Homo sapiens: one gene and its partners. The protein of the gene in region 1 interacts with the protein of each later gene in a pairwise test. Each region holds a gene or a part of one and is shown on either strand. Other genes may lie near its edges.

What was found.
Region 2: the proteins of ELOVL6 (region 1) and LCP2 interact in binary tests that used the Homo sapiens proteins (3 or more experiments, as listed by UniProt).
Region 3: the proteins of ELOVL6 (region 1) and HMOX1 interact in binary tests that used the Homo sapiens proteins (3 or more experiments, as listed by UniProt).

The regions. Positions count from the first base shown.
Region 1 is NC_000004.12:110,195,603-110,203,845, forward strand, and holds the start of ELOVL6 (very long chain fatty acid elongase 6), read right to left. Parts: upstream 3,014-8,243; 5' UTR 2,734-3,013; coding exon 2,645-2,733; intron 1-2,644. UniProt on the Homo sapiens protein: Catalyzes the first and rate-limiting reaction of the four reactions that constitute the long-chain fatty acids elongation cycle.
Region 2 is NC_000005.10:170,294,741-170,303,088, forward strand, and holds the start of LCP2 (lymphocyte cytosolic protein 2), read right to left. Parts: upstream 3,038-8,348; 5' UTR 2,872-3,037; coding exon 2,794-2,871; intron 1-2,793. UniProt on the Homo sapiens protein: Adapter protein primarily involved in signaling pathways within T-cells, as well as other immune cells such as platelets, mast cells, and natural killer (NK) cells.
Region 3 is NC_000022.11:35,383,863-35,391,303, forward strand, and holds part of HMOX1 (heme oxygenase 1), read left to right. Parts: intron 1-2,822; coding exon 2,823-3,314; intron 3,315-6,001; coding exon 6,002-6,101; intron 6,102-7,441.

The DNA of each region.
Region 1 (8,243 bases):
AGCAGGGTTCTTTGACTGCAATAAGCAATCTAAGAACATAACATCAACAGAGAGCAGAAGCCAGGAAGGGAAAAATCCCAAGATGTGACTCTGCCACGGTATGCAAGTTCTAGCCTGTTAACCTTCGGGTATTAACGAGTAGTGCTGGCAATAAAATGGGCACCAATCACCATTTCAACTCACTGGACATTTTCTCAAGAATGTGCCTTATGCAAAGCACTCTGCTAGGTGCTTTGCAGAATCAAGAGTGGGATGACAAGAACCGTAACCTGAAGAGCTGATGGTCTGTAAGTTAATAACCATGTATATAACAGTAAAGGATATTGCCAGAAGAAAGGTACAGATAAAGAACTAGGAGGAAACAGTGGTCAGAACCTAACAGGAGTAGATACGTTGGCACATTTTTGTCATTTTCAGTCCCACGAGGGCTGAGACCTGTCTGGCTCAGTACTGAGTGAATGGAGAGAAGAGGCGGGAAATGGTACCTGAAGCAGGCCTAGGAAGTGGCCTCAGAGAAAAAGCAACAAGTAAATAAGAGGCAGTATCGACTGCAGTGGGCTAGGAATGGCGGGCGTACAGTGAATGGGGTCAGCCAGCAAAGCGAGGGAAAGCGGACTCCGGAAGAGCAGGTTAAACCAGGACGCAGCAAGTCAGAGATTCGGCACAGAAGCAAATGCTGACCACACTGACCACACAGGCTAATGCGGGAGGACTGTGGGCCCGAACAGGCCGGCTGGAGGATATGACAAACATGTGCGGAGAAGACCCGGGCCCGGGGCTAGCCAGCAGCGCGGTTCCGGCGCCCGCCGGCTCCGGCCACCGCCCCCTCCCCGCCTCCAGCACCACCCCCTAAGCGGGAGGAGGAAGTGCATCCAGAGAAGGACCCCGGGCGGTGGGGCTCGAGGGGCCTCGGCTGCCCCGAAACGCCGAGGTCTATCTGCGGTCTCGACCCTTAGTGTCCAACCTCCTTCCGGACCCACCCCTGCACCCCCTGGCCTCAGCGGCCCGGGAGGGCACCAGCCCTGTGCCTGTGTGGCTGCTGCACTTCCAGTCCTTCCGAGCGGCCCGCGTCCCCGCCTCTTAGGCTCCGGCTCGGGCCAGACGCGGCCCTTGGGCCCCTAGCCCACCGCCGCCACCAGCCACGCCGCAGCTCACCCCAAGCAGGCCTGCCCCGCCGGTGCGCGCGGCCCAGGAGGCGGGCTCCGCCCGGCAGCCGCCGCAAATGGCCATTGGGGCCCGGACCAGCCCGCGGGAAGCTGGGAGTGGGCGCGCTCCGGCCGGGCGGGAGGAGAAGGAAGCGGCGGCCGGGCCTCCCGACACTGGCCGGCGACTCCAGGGGGCTGGAGGACAGGAAGTTGAAACCCCCTTTTCGCAGCTGCGGCCCCGTGGCACCAGCTCCTACTGCACCAACCCGCCCAGGCCACAGGCGCGCCGGCGTTTCTGGTTTCCAGTTGAAGAGGGCAGGCGGGAGGGCGCGGGGCACGCGCGCTCGCGCACGCGGCGGGCGGAATCCCCCGGCTCCCGGGAGACCCTGCGGCCCGACCCTCCCCGGTCAAGCCATCCCCCGGGCTGCCGGCCCCTTGCCTAGCTCCGGGGTGCGTTGGGCTTGAACTTTACAGATCGCCAGACCCGAAGTTAAGGGGAGGAGAGGAATGCCTCTGCCACAACCCTGTCTACAAGAAGCGAGATGAGCACACCCTCCTCTGTTAAATATTGCAAGGTGACACTGGATCGCCTCCCACACAGGGATTTTCAAAAGGTCTGGCGGGGGGACTACAGTAAACAAGAAAGGTGTTTTCCCTGATTATTAGTTTCCTAGGGAAGAGCCCCTAAGGACTCTGCAGACGGAGGGGCTTTTAATCTGTGTGCCTGAACTCCAATCAGCAGCTACGCACAGAATTAGAAGTGTGTCCAAAAGGCGTTTCCGTAAAACAGAAACTTAATAATGGCGTGGCTCCACTCGCTCGGGTTCATTCATTTATTACTGTTTTCATTGTCCCCTCCTCCCTCCCACCCGGTCTCTCTATGAAACCGGAAAGGGAACCGCGTGGGGAAAGGGGTACTAAAAAGGGGGCATCCGCCTGAGGAGCGGCAGACAGAGGAGGACGGTGAAGTAGGAGCGCTGCAAGGAGAAAGGAAGGACACGAGGGATGGAGAGACAGCGAGGACCAGGGCCAAGGGCGGCGGGCGGGAGAGGGTTAAAGGCAACAGGAGACAAGGTCCTCCCTCCACTGCCTTTCACACTCCGGTTGCGGGAGAGGCCAAGCGAGAAAACCCAAATCTAGATGAAAACCGGGGGAGGGGAGGGGAGCACAGGTAGGCGATCTGGACTGTGGCATCTCTCCCGCCTTCCCTGTCGCGCAGACATCACCCTGTGCACACACATATGTTCTGTGTTATATAATCTATATAAAAGATGCCTATGTAGCCGCGGTTCACACAGGGGCACCCACAGACCTCGCGCTTCATGTACCCCCCCCCCCCCAGCGTCTCCTGCACCCGGGAGACCCGAGAACTCAGCGATCAGCTGGCTGCCCGCGATTCATCGCTCCATTCACGCCCAGGCAGGGAATACCGACATTAAGGCACTCCGGGAAGACGCGCAGGGCTCCCGGGAACAGTATCAGGCGAAAGCATCACGTACCAGTTTTCCTGCATCCATTGGATGGCTTCATTCTCGTTGAACTGCTTTTCGAATTCATATTCTTGTAAAGTCAACACTGACATGTTCATTGGGGCTGATCTTCGGAGTCGCTACGTGTTCTCTATACAAAATAAAATAATCTGTAAAGCGCTTGATTTCGAGTGTTCTCCTGTCTGCTTCCCCCACCCACCCCCCTAGGTCTTCCCCACGCCGCTCGGTCTCCAGCGGTCGTCTCTTCTCCCAGCCTCTCAGCTACATCCAGGGCTGAGCATTGCCTGCGCCTCCGCTCCCAGCTCCTCTCTCTGGGGCTCTCCTCCTCCCGGCGTCCGCATCCACCGTAGGAGGAAATGAATGCCTTGCGGTCTTAGTGCCCGCACGTTTGTCCATCACCCTTTTTACTCGTCTACAGGGAAATCTCCTCCCCCTCGTGCGATTTGAGAAATTAACCCTTGGCGAGGGAGTGTGCGAAAGAGCGCGACCTCTCTCCGCCCGGGGGGGACAGTTTTGTTTACAGCGAAGGTGGTTGGAAGAGTGGGGGAAGGGCGCAGAGAGAAAGGAAGTGGCCTGGAGGTCATCCAGATCCCCTAAGCCCAACCTCGTGGGCCGCCTTGCTTTGAATGAAGTTTCAGCTTGCAGGGCGCATCCCCGCGGCGCGTGGACCCGAGAGCTTGGCGAGTAAACGATTGGGAAATAGTAAAACCTGCCAGCTCTCTTGCAAGAGAACTCCGGGCAAATCTACGTTGAGATCACCAGTGAAGGGAATACGCTTCCCACCTCCTCGCCCTACCTCTGGGACCACCCCCACCCCTACCCCCACCCCCACCCGGGAGCTCTGGCTTAGATTCACGCTAACCCAGGCCCTGCGGACGGCAGAGCTCCTTAATCTCGTACAGACAGGGGATGCTGAGTGTGAGGATAGTGGATAGGCGAGAGAGGCTAGTAGCCGGAAGTGGAAGAAAGGGCTGGGTTAGGTGGAGGGTTTAGGTACCGGGAAGGGGGGGATTAATGAACAGAGGCAGAGTGGGGAAGGAAGCTGACAGGAGAACTGGACCGACTGGCCAAATGCAAAAACTTTATTTGCATGCATGAGAAATTTGGCTTTACTTGCTGTACTTGTAGGTAGAACAGAATATGTGAGGAGAGGGCTGAATGTACTGTTGACCCCTACTGGGCCCTCAGCCTCCAAGAGGAAAAACTATTTTCTATTCCATCCATCCCTCCACTCATTTCCCCCAAGAGTTTGGAAAAATGAAATATGAGACATGGAAGTATCTAATGATGTAATTGTAAACTTTACAAAATAATAAGGAGCCCTGCTTTTAAAAATTAGGTGGATATTAGGACCAGAAAGAAAATTCCCCTTCTGAGAACATCCCCCCACCTCCCCAGTAGTCCAAAAAGGGTACTTTCATTCAATTTAGATGCCTCTAACCCACAAAAAGTGGGAACTGGGAGAAAAATTTTTAAAGGAGGAAGGGACCGGCCGCGGTGGTGGCTCACAGAAGTAATCCCAGCACTTTGGGAGGCCGAGGTGGGCGGATCACCTGAGGTCAGGAGTTCAAAACAGCCTGGCCAACATGGTGAAACTCCGTCTCTACTAAAAATATAAAAATCAGGCAGGCGTGGTGGCGGGCACCTGTAACCTCAGCTACTCAGGAGGCTGAGGCAGGAGAATCGCTTGAACCCGTGAGGTAGAGGTTGCAGTGAGCCAAAATTCTGCCACTGCACTCCAGCCTGGGCGACAGAGGGAGACTCTGTCTCCAAACAAACAAACAAAAAAAAAAAAGAGGAAGGTCTAATGAGAAAGTAAAGAAATAATTTTTAAAATCCAGTACAATATATAGATTAAAGGGCTAGCCTAGTTGATTAGCAAATTAATGTATACATTGACACTGCCAAAGATTCTGTGTAGGGACTGTCCTCATCTCCCCCATTAAGGGTTGTCTTTCTTTTTTCTTTTTCTTTTTTTTTTTGAGATGGAGGAGTCTCGCCCTGTTGCCCAGGCTGGAGTGCAGTGGTGCAAACTCGGCTCACTGCAACCTCCGCCTCCCAGGTTCAAATGGTTCTCTTGCCTCAGCCTCCCCAGTAGCTGGGATTATAGGCAAGCACCACCACGCCCGCCTAATTTTTGTGTTTTTAGTAGAGATGGGGTTTCACCATGTTGGCCAGGCTGGCTGTGATCCACCTGTCTCAGCCTCCCAAAGTTCTGGGATTACAGGCATGAGCCACCATGCCCAGCCAAGGGTTGTCTTTCTAGAGACCTCTACAGTACAAGTCTACGTCACTTTGAAGTAAGGCCCAGGCCAAAACTCTTGGCAAGATTGGGCTGGAAGATAGGTGTGGCCAGATAAGAAAGAACCATTTTAGCACGGTGCCTGAGCCTGTGAATAATCAATAAATATTTGTAAAGTGAATGATTCATCAAATAAATTAAGGTAAGAAGTGAGAAAGGAATCAAGACAGAAAATCCACTTTGGGTGGCTGAGGCAAGACAATTGCTAGAGACCAGACTGGGCAACATAGTGAGGCTCCATCTCTACAAAAAATTAAAAATTAGCCAGGTGTGGTGGTACATGCCTGTAATCCCAGTTACTCTGGAGGCTGAGATGGGAGGATAGCTTGAGCCTGGGAGGTCAAGGCTGCAGTGAGCCATGATCACACCACTGCAGTCCGGCTTGGGTGACAGAGTGAGACCTTATCTCAAAAACAAACAAGCACTGTCAGTGACTTTGAAAACTGGTGACTCTGTATGGAAAGCAATTTGGCAGCCTATATGATAATTTCATTTATTTTTTAGAGATGGGGACTTGTTATGTTTTCCACGCTAGGACTATAGGCACCCAGCATATATCACAATTTTAAATCCACACCATTAATTCACCAGAATTATTTTTTTTTTTGAGATGATGTCTCCCTCTGTTGCCCAGGCTGGAGTGCAGTGGCGCGATCTCGGCTCACTGCAACCTTTGCCTCCTGGGATCAAGTGAGTCTCCTGTCTCAGCCTTCCAAGTAGCTGGGATTACAGGAATGTGCCACCATGCCCAGCTAATTTTTGTATTTTTAGTACAGACAGGGTTTCACCATGTTGGCCAGGACGGTCTTGAACCCCTGACATCAGGTGATCTGCCTGCCTCAGTCTCCCAAAGTGCTAGGATTATAGGCGTGAGCCATCGCACTTGGCCTACCAGATATATTTTGAGTACATACTCATCTGAGCTCTTGGGACTCACAAATGAGACAAACAGGGCTCTTGCGCACTTGGAGCTTACATTCCAGAAGGGAAGACAAAATAATTTCTTAGAGAATGAAATGCTAGGATTACAATTTAACAGCATGACATGAAGGCCTGGGAGTGCTCATTTAAACCTGGAAGGCCTCAGGGAGAAGGACTTTGAGTTGAGACCCCGCTGGCAAAGAGCCAGCCACCTCTTGCAGAAGTGTTACAAAGAAGAATGAGCAAGTACAAAGGCTCCTAGGAAAAGAATAAATTTGCGGGATTGAGGACAAAAGGCTGGTGTGGCTTCAGGCCATCAGTAAGGAGTAATTGAAAGAAACAGGTTGAAGAGACAGGCAGGGGTCAGATCTTGGCCACAGGTAAATCAAGATAAGGTGTTTAGATTTTATTCTCAACTGCAGTGGAGTGGAGGAGGATAAAAGAATGTTAAACCGAATAATAGCATGATAATTCCTAGTAAATTCACTGCTATGGATATACTCACCGAAACATTCCGGATATATGTCTAAGATATTCAGCATTGGGCTGGCATTATGCTTGTAATCCCAGCACTTTGGGAGGGCGAGGTGGGCTGATTGCTGGAGCCCAGGAGTTCAAGCCCAGCCTGGGCAAGATGGTGAAAACCTGTGTCTACAAAAAAAAAAAATACAAAAACATTAGCTGAGCATGGTGGCATGTGTCTATATTCCCAGCTACTCAGCAGGCTGAAGTGGGAAGATCACCTGAGCCTGGGGAGGTCAAGGCTGGAGTGAGCCATGATTGCGCCACTGCACTCCAGCCCGAATGACAGAGTGAGACCTTGTCTCAAAAAATGACAACACCAACAAAGAAAACCCCCACAAATATATTCAGCACTGTTTATAATAAAACACTGAAAATAATAGTTTAAGGGATAATTGGAAGGACAGCCAAGAAAGGAATGAGGTCAATAGACTCAAGTCAATGTGATTCATTGTCAGTCCTGGTGGGCTACCTCTTGACAAAAGCAGAGGAGGCAGCCCCGCTTACAGGCTATATAGCAAGGTTTTATAGGGCATATAACTGGGTCAGGGTGAAGGAAAAAGAAAAGGCCAGGGAGTAGGGGATCCTTTGTGCCAGGTGTCTGACCGCTTCCTGGAGTTGTTTTTCTTGCCAGTTCTGTTGTGTAAGGTAGACTTCTTGACCGCATCCTGGAACAGCTGGCCTCGGGTCCGACAGTTACAGGTGGGGCTTTGGGGCTTAGGTCTATGGGAGCGGGAAACAGTCCAGTTGGGTGGACCCTAACATTCCAGCCTTTTAACAGATGATAGAGAAGGGGCATTGATTTCATCAGACTGCTTCAGGCTGAGAGTGGGCAGGGGCTAGGGGAAAGGCTGGAAAGTGGAGGTTGGCTTTGGTTTTGAAAGTGTTGATACTCCTGGAGTAACATCATGACCTGTATGGTTCCATGGGCAAAGGCATGGATACGATTCTGCAAAAACTGGGTGAAGAGGAGTATTAGGCAAGGACCTAAGATTAGGAGGAGAAAAAGGATTACAGCAGGTCCAAGGAGAGAGGGTAGCCAGGCGGCCCAGGTGCTGAGAGATCAAGAGGGCCACGTAGAGGAGCTGCTTTCCCTGATCTTTTGGGCTCGATCTTTGAGATTTTGTTTGTTTGTTTGTTTGTTTTTTACTGCATCCTGAACTAAGCCTGACTGGTTAAAATAAAAGCAGCATTCTTCATCTAGGAAAATGCAGAATCCTCCTTTGTCGGTGGTAAGTAGGTTGAGACCTCTCTGATTTTGTAAGGCGACTGCCGCTAGGGAGTCCAGCTGAGCTTGTAAGGGGATATGGAAGTTGCAAGGTTGTCTATACCATCTGAAAGGTCTTTTGATAAGGTTTTATGGTAATAAGAGGAGGTTGCGATTCCTGCTACCCCTGTACCTGCGGCCACTGTGATGCCTAGGTCTACAAATAGTGGGATAAGTTGTATGGCCTGGCGCCTGCTGTGTGGGATTTGAGTATTTAGGGTTTGGAGGGGCAGGTTTTCTCCTGGAGCTATGTCTATTTTAGGGCTGAGGAAGACCAGTGTACAGGTGCCTGTACAGTTGGTGGGTAGACAGAAGCAGGTGGAGGTGCTGCATAGAAAGAATATACCTTGGCTAGGGAGGCAGAATTGGGACTGTATGGCAAAAAGGGGGTGTAAAACGTTCTCTGAGCACCAGGCGTGGAGGTAGATGTCTTGACTGCATCCTGGAACAGCTGGCCTCTGGTCAGACAGTTACAGGAAGGTTTAGGGTAGTGGGTTTTACTTTTGGCCTTTGAGGCTTAGGTCTAGGGGAGGGGGAAACAGTCCGGTTGGGTGGACCCTAACAAATAGGAGGCTGATTAAATAAATGGTGACACA
Region 2 (8,348 bases), on another chromosome or scaffold:
CTTTATCTACAGGCAGTGGGGGGTAAGTGGTTCTTGGAAGAGTCAACTGCCTTTAATTCATCATTCTCACTGTTATCATTATGAGATAAACCAGATGATTTTGAAGAGTGCTAACTTTGTGTCTAGATCAGCAGAGAGTCCTGCAGACTGGGACCCAGGCATTTGATTCTGCTCCAGCAAGATCTAGGCTTGTGGACCTCAAATCTGTATTTTTAAGGAGCACCCTAGACGATTCCTATGGCATCCAGCATTGGTAGGCACTGGTCCAGAAAAGTTACCTGGATTTGTAGTAAGGAAGACTGAGGCCTCTAGAGGGAAAGAGGCTGGTCTAAGGTCACACAGTGAGCTGGGATACCAGCTGGGACCCCACCTGGGATTAGGACACACAGCTCTGAGCCAGTGCCTCTCCACTGCACGACCCAAGGATGTTCTCCTGCAAGTCAAAAGGAATTGGAGAGATTGAACAAATATGTAACATGGTCTCTGTCCTCAGGAGCTTATATTCCAGACACAGGACGAGGTACCCATGTCAGAGACAAGAAGACGCAAAGTCCCACCAGTCTGCATGGGTGTCCCCAGCTAGGAGCCAGTTAATAGAGAAGGTAAAAGGGCAGAAGGAACACGCATTAGGATCCATTTGTCTGCTGAGTGCCTTGCACACATCATTTGCTTTAATCCTCACAACCAACCCATTGGGTTAGTTACTGTTCATATCTCTATTTCACTGATGAGGAAGTTGAGGCACAGAGAGGCAAAGCAACTACAGGAAAGTCGCCAAGCTAGCAGGTGGCAGAGCCAGGGTAAAGTGTGTCCGACCTCAGAGCTGAGTCGAGAGCTGTCTCCAAGGGAGGCCTGACCCCACTACTTGGGTAGAGTTTGCATCTGCAGATCAATTCTTTACATGTCATGTTTGACAGCTAAGATCCATTCCCAAATGACTCTGCGGTCCATTCGTTTGGTAGTTTCTTTCAGGGGGCTGAGGTACTCAGAATCTGAAGGGTTTCTATCCAAGTCTGTGGAGGGACTAGAACTTCCAGGATCACAGATTTGCCTCAGTCTCCTAGTTTCTTCCCTCAGTCCATTTATGGCAGAAGAAGGAACCTGCCTGGGTGCTGTAGATTTGTCCTGGGGTCTGAGATCTCCAGGAAGAAAACTCTCCCTTCCCCCAGCTCAGGCAGTGAGGTCTTCCTGTACCATCCCTGACCCGTGGTCCATCTCCCTGTACTGATGGGAGTTTTAGGGATCAATTCTCTGTTGCTCAATTGGATTGTATAATTCTCCTGGTCACACCTGAATGTTAGGCCTATCTGTGCCTCTCAGCCCGTCCCAAGTCTTTCTCTTCATAATTCTCAATTCCTTTCTTTTTCCCTTATCAAGGTAACATGCCACTTTATTCCCTCTTGGCAAATTTTACCTTGTTGCCCTATCTTATTTGGTCTATATTTGAGCAAGATATTTAGAAACATCCTTCAAAAAACCAGTTGCGCAACAATATTTGCTGAAATCTAAGTTTATTATGACCTTGCAGAAGGAAAATAACAGAAATGAAAGCACAAAATATGGCAAAAAACAGGATCTGTGAACTGTACCCCTACCATACCACACCTAGTTCAACATGTTCTCATTTTCTTCTTCAGGTTGGGGGAGAACAGCTGTGACTATAAATGCCTCGGAAATGCATAGACCCCAGGTTTGGCTATACGTCCTAGGGAACCTCGTCTACCCTCTTGAATCTCAATTTCCCCAGGAAAAACACGAAGCTGAATTAGATGACTTCTACCATCTTAGCTTTACAATCTCATCTTTATGACAGTCTGGAATATCAACAGAATCCGATGCCAGCCTGCAGGGATGAGGGTGTTAGAAGCTTAACCGTCTCGCACAAGTCATCTTACCACATGGTCAGGGTAGAGGGACTATAACTAAGTCATGTGGCTTGAGATCTGCCCAAGCAGATGCGTTGTCCCCTTCTGCCAATGACCAAGCACAGGGATCCTTCAACCTTTCCTCTAAGTCCAGAAGATAAGACAGCAACGCTCTGGTCCCAGCACCGCCACAAGCCTCTTTTCCTCTAGGGGCCTCAGTTTTCATAGCTATAAATTGGGGCTCACATCAGTTTTCTGTCCTGCTTCACAAGACTCTCATAAGGCTCCAAGGAGACTGCCCCAGGCGGGAGCTTGAGGACCCCCCTTAGGGTCGTGAGCAGTGAAAGCCCAAATGCTGTGTCTGGCACTGCTCATCATAGTCCTCTATCCAGCCCTCCCACCCTGCCTATTCTTTCTCCTGCCTCCAGGACACCACGTCTCCCCTTTCTAGTAAGTAGCGTTGATCTCATTAGCAGTTACAACAGTTCTCTGCATCTCAGAGCATGGACTTTAAAACCAGATAGGTGTGGCTTGAGTCTTGCCTCTATCACATGTAGTCCCTAGGGCTTCGGACCATTTCACTTCCCTGAGCTGATTTTGCAGCTGAGTCAAGGGGATAACAATGCTGACCTCACAACATAGTAGGGAGCGCTAAATGGGACAGTGCCTGTGAGACACCGAATTCAAACCCTAGCACATAATAGGCACATACTCATTTGAGGGCTTCTGCTCCCATCCTTCTCTCCGGAACTCATGGTCAGGAAAACTCAGCGGTCTATATGGCGCTCACTCAACCAGTAAAGTTGCCATAGGGTTCCATTGCTATCTTATACACCTCCCACATTCTGCCCCAATTCCATCGTCAAGCCTCAGCTCAGCCCACCAAGGGCACTAGCATCATGACCATTCACACAAGAGCAAGGCTTACCTTCTTGAAATAGTCAGCAAGGCTGTCGGGGTCCCAGCCCAGGACCTCTGAGCGAAAGGGCACATTCCTCAGTGCCATGGCTGCTCTCCCGGGAAGAAGCTCACAAGCTGAGCATGGGCGCTTCACCCATGGGCAGAGAAGCTCAAATCCAGAGCTCGGAGGCGTTCTTGGCTCTTCCAACTCCCAGCTACCCTGTGGAACACCCCTGTTGGAGCCGATGTCTTTTCTGGCGTAGCCAGATCCCAGAAAGCAACGGCTTCCTCTGCGAACAAATATGGTCTCTTCTCAGAAAACGACTCAGCTAGTTTCCTTTACCACTTCCTCTGCTGGGCTCTAAATAAGTAAACAAGGAAGCCCAGCTCTGGAGGCTTGAGATGCAGAGAGAGCCACAGGGTTGGTAATTCCCCACTGGCTCCAGTCACCCCAACCCAGTAGGAGAGGCAATGAAGGGGTCTTAAACTCCAATGTGAGTCTGAGTAATTTTCCTTTAAACTCTGGGCACCCATATGTCTACACTGCATTCTTGCTCAGCTGGGGCTTTGCAGACCAAAATCTATCCTGACGGTTGACCTGAAATACAGACAATTTCCCACATCAGTGAACTGCTGGAGCATGTTTTTTTAATGCTTTCCAACCACTTTCCCCTCCCACCATCAAAGACTGGGATTCTTTCAGCTGCCTCTTTACAGTTGTCATGAGAGGGTCCTCAAGGAGTGAGTGAGTCAGGCACCCAGGGCTGAACAAGGTGCTACACTGTGCAGACAGGGCTCAGTTTCTGATATGACTATTTCTGTGCTATGCAACCTTAGGCAAGGAGTTAAAAGCTGGGAATCTCAGTTTCCAAATCTGTATAATAGGAAAACAGTGATTCTTCATATGCACATAAAACTTAGATGCATTCAACTAGACAAACCTAAAAAGAAAAATTAAAAAGAAAAAAAACTTAACAATTGCTATTGGTAGTGTCATATATTCCATTCACTATTGTTTCCACAATATATTTTATTCACTATTGATTCTGCCATATATTCTAGCCAAAGAGCACATTCCCTGGAGATAGGAGGTGAGAATTTGCTGTTTTCTTAGTTTCAGACATTGTTCATTTCTCATAACTGAACAACTTATTGGCAGAGGGTGAGTCCAGTGTATAAAAGCAACTATATTTGTGCAATAAGGCAACCTCTAAACACAAGTTACTACTTCATCTAATGCCACACACACACACACACACACACACACACACACACGAGTCATCTGTTCCAAGGCTGTTGCCTTTACTAAGTGATGCTATGTTGGTCCTTGAGGTGGTGCCTTCCTGAGGGTTTTCAAGCATAGCTTTGGCCATGCACAGTTTTCTTCTTATACACACTCTGAGGAGCCCCGCCGTCACGGTAATGCACCTGCCTCACAAGCTGGTGGGCAGCTTAAATGAAATACACATTTTGCTCCAGGCCCAGCACTAGCTCATCAATGTGAGCTGGTGTTAGCCTCACCTTAGAAGGTGCTGAGGGCATCAGTGAAGGTAGCCCAGGCCATTTGCTCCTTGCAGGGCCTCACACCTAAGAACTCTTTTCTTTTCTCTCTTTCTTTCTTTCTTTCTTTTTTTTTTTTTTTTTTTATTGAGACGGAGTTTCGCTCTTGTTGCCCGGGCTGGAGTGCAATGGTGCCATCTCGGCTCACTGCAACCTCCGCTGCCTCCCAGGTTCAAGCGATTCTCTTTCCTCAGCCTCCCGAGTAGCTGGGATTACAGGCATGCACCACCACGCCCAGCTAATTTTGTATTTTTAGTAAAGACGGGGTTTATCCCTGTTGGCCAGGCTGGCCTGGAACTCCCAACCTCAGGTGATCTGCCCGCCTAGGCCTTCCAAAGTGTTGGGATTACAGGCGTGAGCCATTGTGCCTGGGCCGCACCTAAGAGCTCTTTGTAGCTGATCATTCTGTATAAAGCACAGCTCTGCTGTACAAAAGCTCCATCACGGGTGAGAGGTCACCTGGTCTTTCAAATCACTAGCATAGCAGTGAACAATAAAAAGCCATTTGAAGAGAAAGAGAGAGAGAAATCACTTTGAAGTAGAGTAAGCACAGAAGATGTCATGGAATTAACTGGGATTTAAGCAGGGCCGTGGAGGATGGAGTAAAAGGGAGGGCATTCCTGACGTGGATCAATCAATCTCTCTCTCGCTATCTCTCAAAACACATGCCACCTATGAAAAGGAACATTCCAGATCATCCTTAAAAGTAGAAGCAATTTTACTTTATTTTATTTTAATTTCTCCTTTTTATTTGCTTTTGTTTTATGTTTAGAGATGGGGCCTCCCTCTATTGCCCAGCCTGGAACGCAGTGGCACAATTATAGCTTACTATAGCCTCGAACTCCTGGGATCAAGTGATCCTCTCACCTCAGCCTCCCAAGTGGCTGGGAGTACAGGCATGCACCACCATGCTCGGCTAATTTTTTTATTTTTACTCTTTTGTGGAGATGGAGTCTTGCTTTGTTTTCCAGGCTGTTCTTGAACTCTTGGTCTCAAGCGACCCTCCCATCTTGGCATTACAAAGCGCTGGGATTATAGGTGTAAGCCACCAAGACTGGCCTAATTTTCTTAATGATGTTCACCCCACTCAGGATAAGAAAAATCTACAAAAAAGCAGTTGTAATGAAGGTATCACTAAATATTAGGCTCCTTTAGAAAGAATTATCCAATTAATGTGGCCAAGATGGAGGATCCATGGAGCTCATTTAGAAGACAGACAAAGCAGCTAAGAAACCTGGATGACAATAATGGTGACTTTGAGAAACATAAAGAGACACGATGCCTTGAGCTCTTCCTATGGTCCAGAGAGCACAAGCTAAGAACTTCTTACTGACTGTCTTAATTGTTGGCACTATTGTTGCTCCTACTCTACAGAAGAGAAAATTGAGGCTCCAAGAGGTGAACTACTTGCCCCCTGAACCCAGCAAGTAGGGAGTGAATCCAGGACTCTTCCAAAGTTGATCTGAGTCCAGAGCCCCTGTCCTTGGCCATTTGCCACCTTGAGGCTCTGAGATGTTACAGAAACTGCCTAAGGTAGACTTGGGATTCAAACCCAGTCTGTCTCCAGAGCCTGCGCAGTTTCTTCTCTGTGGCCTCTGGTGAGGAGAAAGAGAGGTTGTCAATCTGAACAAGCTCAGTAAAGGATGCAGCACTCTGCATGAGGCGGGCACTTGGTGCCCCCTCCCCACAGAACCACAGGCCCATTCCTCAGAAAGGGCAGCTGGTGCAAGGGGAAGCATGTTGCTTCAGGCCTGGAGGCTTTCCTCTTCCCCAGGCCTTGCTGATTTCCCAACACTCACGAGTTTCACATCTCCTGTCTCTGGCTGGCGGGTTCCTGAAGCTCCAGAGACCGGGCTAGTTAGCCCCCAAGAGAGACTCAGGAGACCAGAAGGACCACTGTGACCCTGTGCAGGCTCAGCCGCAGGCCCCTCACCTCCAAAATGGGGCGGCCATGAAAGCAGCCTCTGGGTACAGCCCCCGACAGCGTGGCTGCCATGACCATGGAGGCCAGGGGCAGCAGCTGGGTGTACAGCATCTGTCTGTTGGCTTCAAGCATGAAGCAGAGCAGAGGGTGGGGATCCAGTAGGGCATAGTGATTTGAAGCAGTGGTGGGGATACCCTCGCCCATGTCTGTCTCCCTCCCCCAACCAGGTGGAGAACTCCGCAGGTACGAACGAGGAACGAGGTTACAGAGGCCTTCTTAGGCTTTGTGATGCATAGCTCAAGATTTGGGAAAAGGTAAACAACCTCTGAGCAGAATAAAAACAACATTCTAGGGGCTGGGCACAGTGGGTCATGCCTGTGAGTCACGTTGTGGGTCAATCCCAACACTTTGGGAGGCCAAGGTGAGTGGATAATCTGAGGTCAGGAGTTCGAGACTGGTCTGACCCATATGGTGAAACCTTGCCTTTACGAGAAATACAAAAATTAGCCAGGCGTGGTGGCATGAGTGCCTATAGTCCCAGCTACTGGGAAGGCTGAGACAGAATTGCTTGAACCTGGGAGGCGGAGGTTGCAGCGAGCCGAGATGGCACCACTGCACTCCAGCCTGGGTGACACAGCAAGACTCCCTCTCAAAAAAAAGAAAAAAAAAGACAACATTCTGCTCCTACACAGAAACAGGGCTCATGGAATAGGAATGATTTTTCTTTGTTTTTGTTTTTGGAGATGGAGTCTCACTCTGTCACCCAGGCTGGAGTGCAGTGGTGCCCTCTCTACTCAGTGCAACCTCCCCCTCCCAGGTCCAAGCAATTCTCCTGCCTCAGCCTCCCGAGTAGCTGGGACTACAGGCACATGCCGCCACGCCCAGCTAATTTTTTGTATTTTTAGTAGAGATGGAGTTTCACCTTGTTGCCCAGGCTGGTCTCAAACTCCTGAGCTCAGGCAATCCGCCTGCCTCGACCTCCCAAAGTGCTAGGATTACAGGTGTGAGCAACCACGTCCGGCCAAGGGATAGGAACCTTTACTGCACAACCAGTGGAGCCTGTGGACAAGAAAGCAGTACCTGCAGGGAGGCTGTGTCAGATTGTGAGAGTGGATGTGGGAGCAGCAAACTGCAGCCCAGGGCATCGCCTGAATCTCCTCCCCACCCCACCCATCACGTCCAGACTCCCAGCTCCCTCCCTTTCCATCTGACCCACAGCAGAATCATGTGGGCAGATAACTGCCTTCCTTCACCGCTAATTCTAGAGGCGAGAGAAATGCACAATTCCTTAGAAGAGACTTGGGAGTTGCAACTTCTGTGTGTGGGGCTGGGGGAAGGGTCTGGGGAGTTGATGCTTAGGGACGGGGAGAATGGAAAGCAGGGACTTTACAGACGAGAATGTGTTGACCTTCTTAGGAGAGGAACACAAGAAGTTAGAAGGTGGGTGGGAGGAAGTGCTTATTTGAATTTGACTTGGACAGAGGGTCCTGACCATGGGAGAGAGAATAAGGTGGTGGCACGTGGCCCAGAGAGGATGCTGACGTGACACAGACACCACAGGCAATCTGAGGATGCCCTTGCCCGTGTCCACCCAGCCTCACTCCCACCAACTTTTTAACATCTCAGATTTATCACCAGAGGCTGAAGTCCCTTGCTGTTGGAACTTCCTAGAGGGCCTGCATGGGAGCAAAGGCTGCAGCTGTCATCCTCACAGAGAGAGGGGGCAATTTTCCCCTCCATCCTTAAGGCAGGCAGTGGGAGCACCCTCCATGCCTGGGATCCTTGTGGATGGCAAAGGGCTCCACCACATGAGAGAGTCCAGTGGAGCGAGCGGAACCAGGAAGGGGTCCTGACTGCTCTGCTGGACAGAGGGGCCCACCCACTCCAGCAGCCACACTAGAAGGCACAGAACTCGGCAAGCCGGCCTCAGAAAGAGTGTGCAGGCAGGGGGAGACCTGCCTCCCGTGCAACGCATCCTCCATGCAGAGCGCCAGTGCTCACAGCACTCCTGCCGGCCGTGGGTGGGAGGCGGTGGGGAGGGGGCTGGAGCAGCAACCCCATAGGAGCCCTCCTGCAGGCCACACTCCGCTCTACCTCGA
Region 3 (7,441 bases), on another chromosome or scaffold:
CAGCACTGTTGTGAAATTCATGCAAATAGAAGGAAAGCACTTGATGAAGAACCGGGAAGATACTGGGTGTTAAAACATCAGCGTGGGGAAGAGCTTGTTCAGGTTGAACAGAGGGTGTGGGGGTGGGGAGTAGGGAGCTATATCCCACCACCTTCATCCCAGTCCCTTTTGCAATCTGCACCCTCTGCCACCCCCTACTTCCAACATGAGACATGCTTTATTTATTTTATTTTATCTGAGACAGAGTCTCACTCTGTTGTCCGGGCTGGAGTGCAATGGCAAGATCTCGGTGCCCTGAAACCTCCGCATCCTAAGTTCAAGCGATTCTCCTGCCTCAGCCTCCCAAGTAGCTGGGACTACAGGTGCCCACCACCACACCTGGCCAATTTTTGTATTTTTTTAGTAGAGACAGGGTTTTACCATGTTGGCCAGGCTGGTCTCGAACTCCTGACCTCAGATGATCCACCCGTCTTGGTCTCCCAAAGTGCTGGGATTAGAGGTGTGAGCCACCACCCGGCCGAGACATGCTTTAATGAGGAGAGATTTAATCTGTGGTTCCAGGCTGGGTGGGGTCCTTGGGCCTGTAATGGGTCTTCCTCATCCTCCTCCCCTCTCCCTTAAAAAGATGAGGTACACCCAGTTGCTGCAGTGTGACTGGAGACAGTGGGTGCAGGGAGGTGAATGCTGGAATATCCCATCCCCAGCCAGCTTAGACTTTGGATTTTGCCTCTAAGTCACAGGGTTCTAAGGAGGCGCCAAGATCCATGAGAGAATCCAGTGCTCACTTACATTAAGCTGGTGGACGTGGCACTTATCACAGCCCTTCTCATGTGAGCGCTAAGTGCCAGGCTGCCCTCTGTGCTGGCCCAGATCCTCTCACTTAATCCTCACACCAGCCCCATCTAGTATGTGGCAGGTGAGGGAACTGACTAGCACAGTTGGCTAGCACAGTCACACGGACCTCAGATCATCTGCTCTAGGATAGGATAGGAAGCTGGGACCAGAGAAAGCAAGTGGCTCACCCATGGTCACACAGTTAAGGACTGGCAGAGTTGGGTAAGAACCAGGTCCGTCACACTCAAAAACCCAGGCTCTTTTGTACCAGACTGCCTGGCTTTCTGTCCCCTCAAGGAATAGAGCTGCTTTGAATGTTTGTGGCTCAGAAATAACTCAGAAACTCCAACCTAAATGTCTTAACTTTGTTCTCCTTCAAATTTAAACGGGCGTATTAATGTGTAACGGGAGTTAGTGCCCCAAGCCAAGGTACACTCAAGACCTGTTGCCTCAGCCCAGCATGCAGAGGTGGTGGGGTTCAGAATAGGCCTCCAGGAAGGAGAATTGTGCCCTGTAGTTGGTTACGCAGAGGTCAAAAGCCAGAAGCACATGGCCAATCTCCTTTAAGCACTTTCATTTCAGCTGTTCCCCTCTCCTGAGCCATGGTGGGTCCCTGGCAATGCCCGGTCTTCAATCTAGTTTCATTTCTTACTAGCTGTGCAACCTCCATGTCTCATACCCTCTCTGAGCCTTAGTTTCCTTTTCTGTAAAATGGGAATAGCAATTCCTTTGTTGGATTTTTTTTTTTTTTTTTTCTGAGACAGGGTCTTGCTCACTCTGTTCCCCAAGCTGGAGTACAGTGATATGATCACAGCTCACTGCAACCTTGAAATCCTGGGCTCAAGTGATACCCCTGCCTCCGCCTCTGGAGTAGCTGGGACTATAGGCATGCACCCCCACAGCCATACCTGGCTTTTTTTTTTTTTTTTTTTTTTCTGAGTCAAAGTCTTGCTCTGTCGCCCAGGCTGGAGCGCAATGGCGTGATCTCGGCTCACTGCAACCACTGCCTCCTGGGTTCAAGCAATTCTCCTGACTCAGCCTCCCGAGTAGCTGGGATTATAGGTGCCTGCCACCATGCCTGGCCAATTTTTGTGTTTTTAGTAGAGATAGGGTTTCACCATATTGCCCAGGCTGGTCTCTTGGCCAGGCTGGTCTCGAACTCCTGATCTCGTGATCCGCCTGCCTCAGCCTCCCAAAGTGCTGGGATTACAGGCGTGAGCCACCGCGTCCAGCTGGCTAGTTTATTTATTTATTTATTTATTTTTATTTATTTTTTTGAGACAGAATTTCGCTGTGTTGCCCAGGCTGGAGTGCAGTGGCGAGATCTCAGCTCACTGCAAGCTCCACCTCCCGGGTTCACGCCATTCTCCTGCCTCAGCCTCCTGAGTAGCTGGAACTACAGGCGCCCGCCACCACGCCCGGCTAATTTTTTTGTATTTTTAATAGAGACGGGGTTTCACCTTGTTAGCCAGGATGGTCTTGATGTCCTGACCTTGTGATCCTCCCGCCTCGGCCTCCCAAAGTGCTGGGATTACAGGCGTGAGCCACCGCACCTGGCCCCAGCCAGCTAGTTTTTTAAAATAATTTTTTGTAGAGGTGGGTTTTGGGCTATGTTGCCCAGGCTGGTCTCAGACTCCTGGCTTTAAGCAATCCTCCAGCCTTAGCCTCCCAAAGTGCAGGGATTACAGGGGTTTGAGCCACCACACTGGGCCAGTTTGTTAGATCTTTATATAAGGATTCAATTAGGCTGCTTGTTTTGCCCAGTGGGGTAAAAGGTTTTTAGGCTGAGAAAGTGCATGATCGTCTTTTCCTCTTGTAAAAACCCCTCTGGCTGCTGTGTGAAGAGGATTGTAGCGAGGGGTGGCAGAAGGAGTCAGAGCCCAGCTGCGAAGTGAGGAGGGCCTTTCCAAAGGCAGTAGTGGACGGGACGGACAGAGGTGGGGGTCTTCTATGTGGCTGGCGGCCTGACCTGCTCACTCTGCTTTCAGCTGGTGATGGCCTCCCTGTACCACATCTATGTGGCCCTGGAGGAGGAGATTGAGCGCAACAAGGAGAGCCCAGTCTTCGCCCCTGTCTACTTCCCAGAAGAGCTGCACCGCAAGGCTGCCCTGGAGCAGGACCTGGCCTTCTGGTACGGGCCCCGCTGGCAGGAGGTCATCCCCTACACACCAGCCATGCAGCGCTATGTGAAGCGGCTCCACGAGGTGGGGCGCACAGAGCCCGAGCTGCTGGTGGCCCACGCCTACACCCGCTACCTGGGTGACCTGTCTGGGGGCCAGGTGCTCAAAAAGATTGCCCAGAAAGCCCTGGACCTGCCCAGCTCTGGCGAGGGCCTGGCCTTCTTCACCTTCCCCAACATTGCCAGTGCCACCAAGTTCAAGCAGCTCTACCGCTCCCGCATGAACTCCCTGGAGATGACTCCCGCAGTCAGGCAGAGGGTGATAGAAGAGGCCAAGACTGCGTTCCTGCTCAACATCCAGGTGAGGGTCGGGCAGCCTGGGGCAGCCTCTGCCTCCCCCCGTTGTTCCTCCAAGGGACCCTTCTCATTGTAGGGGAGGGTGCTATAGGTCATGGTTAACACAGGGAACCAGAGTTCCAGCACTGCCACTTACTAGCTGGGTGATCTTGGGCAAATGCCTTCATCTCTCTGTACCTCAGTTTCCCTATCTGTAAAATAGGGATAATAATGGTACCTATATCTTAGACTTATAAGGCTTGAGTGAATTTACAGCAGTAAAGTCCCCACAGCAGTGTCTGGCACAGAGGAAGCCCTCAAACATTCACTACTGTCATAATGGGACATGAGAATCAGTTGTAGCTCTCTGTGACAACAGTCTGTGGCAATGTATAAGTTGTGTGTGCACTAGTGTATAGCCAGGTTGGCACTCCCAGGGTTACAGGTGGCCTCTGCCTTCCAGGGACTCTCAGCCTAGCCAGAGAGGTTTACCTCTTTCTACAAGTGTCTCAAATCCAGGGGGAAGGTGGGGTTTGCGCAAAGCCTGGAAGGATGAATTCTTGGGCAGAGGTGGAGGGGTGAGGGGCTCCTTCTAACCAGATGTCATAGAGCCTTCTCTCTCTGCCACCCCCTGGAGGTGCCATGGGGCCTGGGGCTCGGGGTCATGCCCTCCTGGCTCCCTACTCCCAGCCGTGGATTGCAGAAGATTCTGGTCCTGGCCCCTGTTACGGAACAAGGCCTTTCCCTTCCACCCTCCCCCTTCAGAAAATCCAGTCCGTCTTGGAGGAAGAAAATCTGTGTCTTTCAGAGAAGTGTAGGCAAAAGAAAAGGGCCAGGTGCAGTGGCTCGCGCCTGTAATCCCAGCACTTTGGGAAGCCGAGGTGGGCGGATTGCTTGAGCTCAGGAGTTTCAGACCAGCCTGAGCAACATGGTGAGACCCTGTCTCTATCAAAAATAAAAAATAAAAAAAAATTTAAAGGAAAAAAATGTTTTTAAAAGAAAAGGGATTTGGAATCAGAACTGGCTCTCAGGCTCGTGCCTATAATACCAACACTTTGGGAGGCCAAAGCAGGAAAATGGCTTGAGCCCAGGAGTTTGAGACCAGCCCTGGCAACACAGTGAGACCCCATCTCTACAAAAACATGAAAAAATTAGCCAGACATAGTAGCGTGCACCTGTAGTCCCAGCTACTTGGGAGGCTGAGGTGGGAGGATTGCTTGAGCCCAGGAGGTCAAGGCTGCAGTAAGCCATGATTATGCTACTGCACTCCAGCCTGGGCAACGGCAACAGAGCAAGACTCTGTCTCAAAAACCAAAAAAACAAAAACAAAAACAAAAAAAAACGGCTCTTGGCTGGCCGGGCGTGGTGGGTCACGCCTGTAATTCCAGCACTTTGGGAGGCCGAGGCGGGTGGATCACGAAGTCAGGAGATCGAGACCATCCTGACTAACACGGTGAAACCCCATCTCTACTAAAAAAAAGAAAATACAAAAAAAATTAGCTGGGCATGGTGGTGGGCACCTGTAGTCCCAGCTACTCAGGAGGCTGAGGCAGGAGAATGGCGTGAACCCGGGAGGCGGAGCTTGCAGTGAGCAGAGATCGCGCCACTGCACTCCAGCCTGGGAGACAGAGTGAGACTCCGTATTAAAAACAAAAAACAAACAAAAAAAAACGGCTCTTAGTGCCTGACCTCTGGATCAGTCCTTGGGCAAAGCACTTAACCTGTAGGAGCTACAGTTTCCTCATCTGCAAGGCTAACAAATACCATTCAGCACACCTCACCAAGGCTGAATTTCACAAATCTAAACTCAAGAGAAGAAAGCAGCGGCAGAAGAGTGCATGTACTAGGATACCACTTAATATTATTTCAAAACAAGCAACGCAGCCTTTTGCATGGAGACACAGGCTAAGGACATGGGCGGCCACAGTGAACTCTAAATCCAGGATCATTGTTATCGGTTGGGAGGGCAAGAGCAGGCAGGGGAGCCAATTGGGCTTGGAACATCTTATCTCTTAAGGTGGATGAAAGGGATATGAATTTTCTTTCTTTCTTTCTTTCTTTCTCTCTTTCTTTCTTTCTTTCTTTCTTTTTCTTTCTTTTCTCTCTCTCTCTCTCTCTCTCTCCTCTCTCTCTCTCTCTTCTTTCTTCTTTCTTTCTTTCTTTCTTTCTTCTTTCTTTCTTTCTTTCTTCTCCTTCCTTCCTTCCTTCCTTCCTTCCTTCCTTCCTTCCTTCCTTCCTTCCTTCCTTTCTTTCTTTCTTTCTTTCTTTCTTTCTTTCTATCTTTCTTTCTTTCTTTCTTTTCTTTCTTTCTTGCAGAGTCTCGCCCTGTCACCCGGGCTGGAGTGCAATGGGGCGATCTTGGCTCACTGCAACCTCAGCTTCCCAGGTTCAAGCATTTCTCCTGCCTCAGCCTCCCGAGTAGCTGGGATTACAGGCATGCACCACCACGCCCGGCTAATTTTTTGTATCTTTACTAGAGATGGGGTTTCACTATGTTGGCTAGGCTGGTCTCAAACTTCTGACCCGTGATGTGCCCATCTTGGCCTCCCAAAGTGCTGGGATTACAGGGGCGCACCACCGTGTCCGGCCAATATTTTTCTTACCATCTTGTTATTTCCAAAGTATTTCCTAACACAACTTAAGGTCCTACCTTCAGCTGGGACCTGGTAGCATCTCTCACTGAGATAGGCATGTGTGTCTTTTGTCTTTTAGCTCTTTGAGGAGTTGCAGGAGCTGCTGACCCATGACACCAAGGACCAGAGCCCCTCACGGGCACCAGGGCTTCGCCAGCGGGCCAGCAACAAAGTGCAAGGTGAGAGCATCCAGGAAGGGGCACTTCCTCTGGGCTACACATGGAGGGACTTGGCTGTCTGACTGTAGTATCTCTATTCCTCTGTTTTCTGAATGTTTGGTGGTGGTGGGTGTTGTTTCCTGCTGCCCCACCCCACTGCCCCTGTAAGGACAGGTTCTCGCTATATTGCCCAGGCCAGTCTTGAACACCTGACTTCAAGCAATCCTCTTGCCTCTGCCTCCCCACATGCTGCAGTTACAGGCGCGAGCCACCATGCCAGCCTGAATGTTTGTTGTTGTTGTTGTTTGAGATGGAGTCTCACCCAGGCTGGAGTGCAGTGGCGCGATCTCAGCTCACTGCAACCTCTGCCTCCCGGGTTCAAGCAATTATCCTGCCTCAGCCCCCCGAGTAGCTGGGATTACAGGCGCCCACCACCATGCCTGGCTAATTTTTTTTTTGTATGTTTAGTAGAGATGGGGTTTCACCATGTTGGCCAGGCTGGTCTCGAACTCCTGACCTCAGGTGATCCGCCCACCTTGGCCTCCCAAAGTGCTGAGATTACAGGCGTGAGTCACTGTGCCCGGCCACCTGCGTGTTTTTGTATGAGAAGTGGAGTGCAGGCAAAAGGACCTGGGGTCAACCTTCAGCGTGTGGCTCTGGGCAAGCCATGAGACTTCTCCCTACCTCAGTTTCCCCACCCGTAAAATCCAGTGAGGTTCAGCTACTTCTAGCTTATTGGCTCAGAAGTGCACAAGAACCCCTCAGAAATCATGGGAAACTCCTGCCTCCTTAATTTAGACTCCTTTTTAGGCCTTTGGTCCCCTGATGTGGGCCAGGGAGTTGGGGACCTGTATCCAGCTATGAACCCACCACAGGAAGATGTCCCTTCTGAGTCTTGTTGTGTGTGAGCCCCTCCCTCATGTGCCTAAGAACGATCAAGGCTGGCTGTACTGAAACATCTTGGAAACTTCCAAAAAGACCAAAGTGCTCCACAAAATGTACCCTCACTAAGCCTAAAACACTGAGGGAGGGAGTGTGGCTTTGGGATGGGTAGCAATAAAGAGGTAAGGCTTAGCTACCTCCTGGCAGGTTATATTAGGCCTCCCCTCCTGTGCCACCCTAACCTACCTGGCTTGTGGCTTTCTCACTTGTGCCAGACCACACGGACCCCTCTGCTAGGGGTTTGTAACCCCGGAGGGCTTGGCTATTTGGTGGGGTAGGGAGACGTCACCCTAATGAAGCAGTTCTCAAAGTGTGGTACCCTGGCTGTGGGAGGTGGTAATCCTAGTATCCCCTCAACGGGGTCTGTGAGGACAAAGCATTTTTATAACACTACTACTATTTTTTTGGTTTTTTTTTTT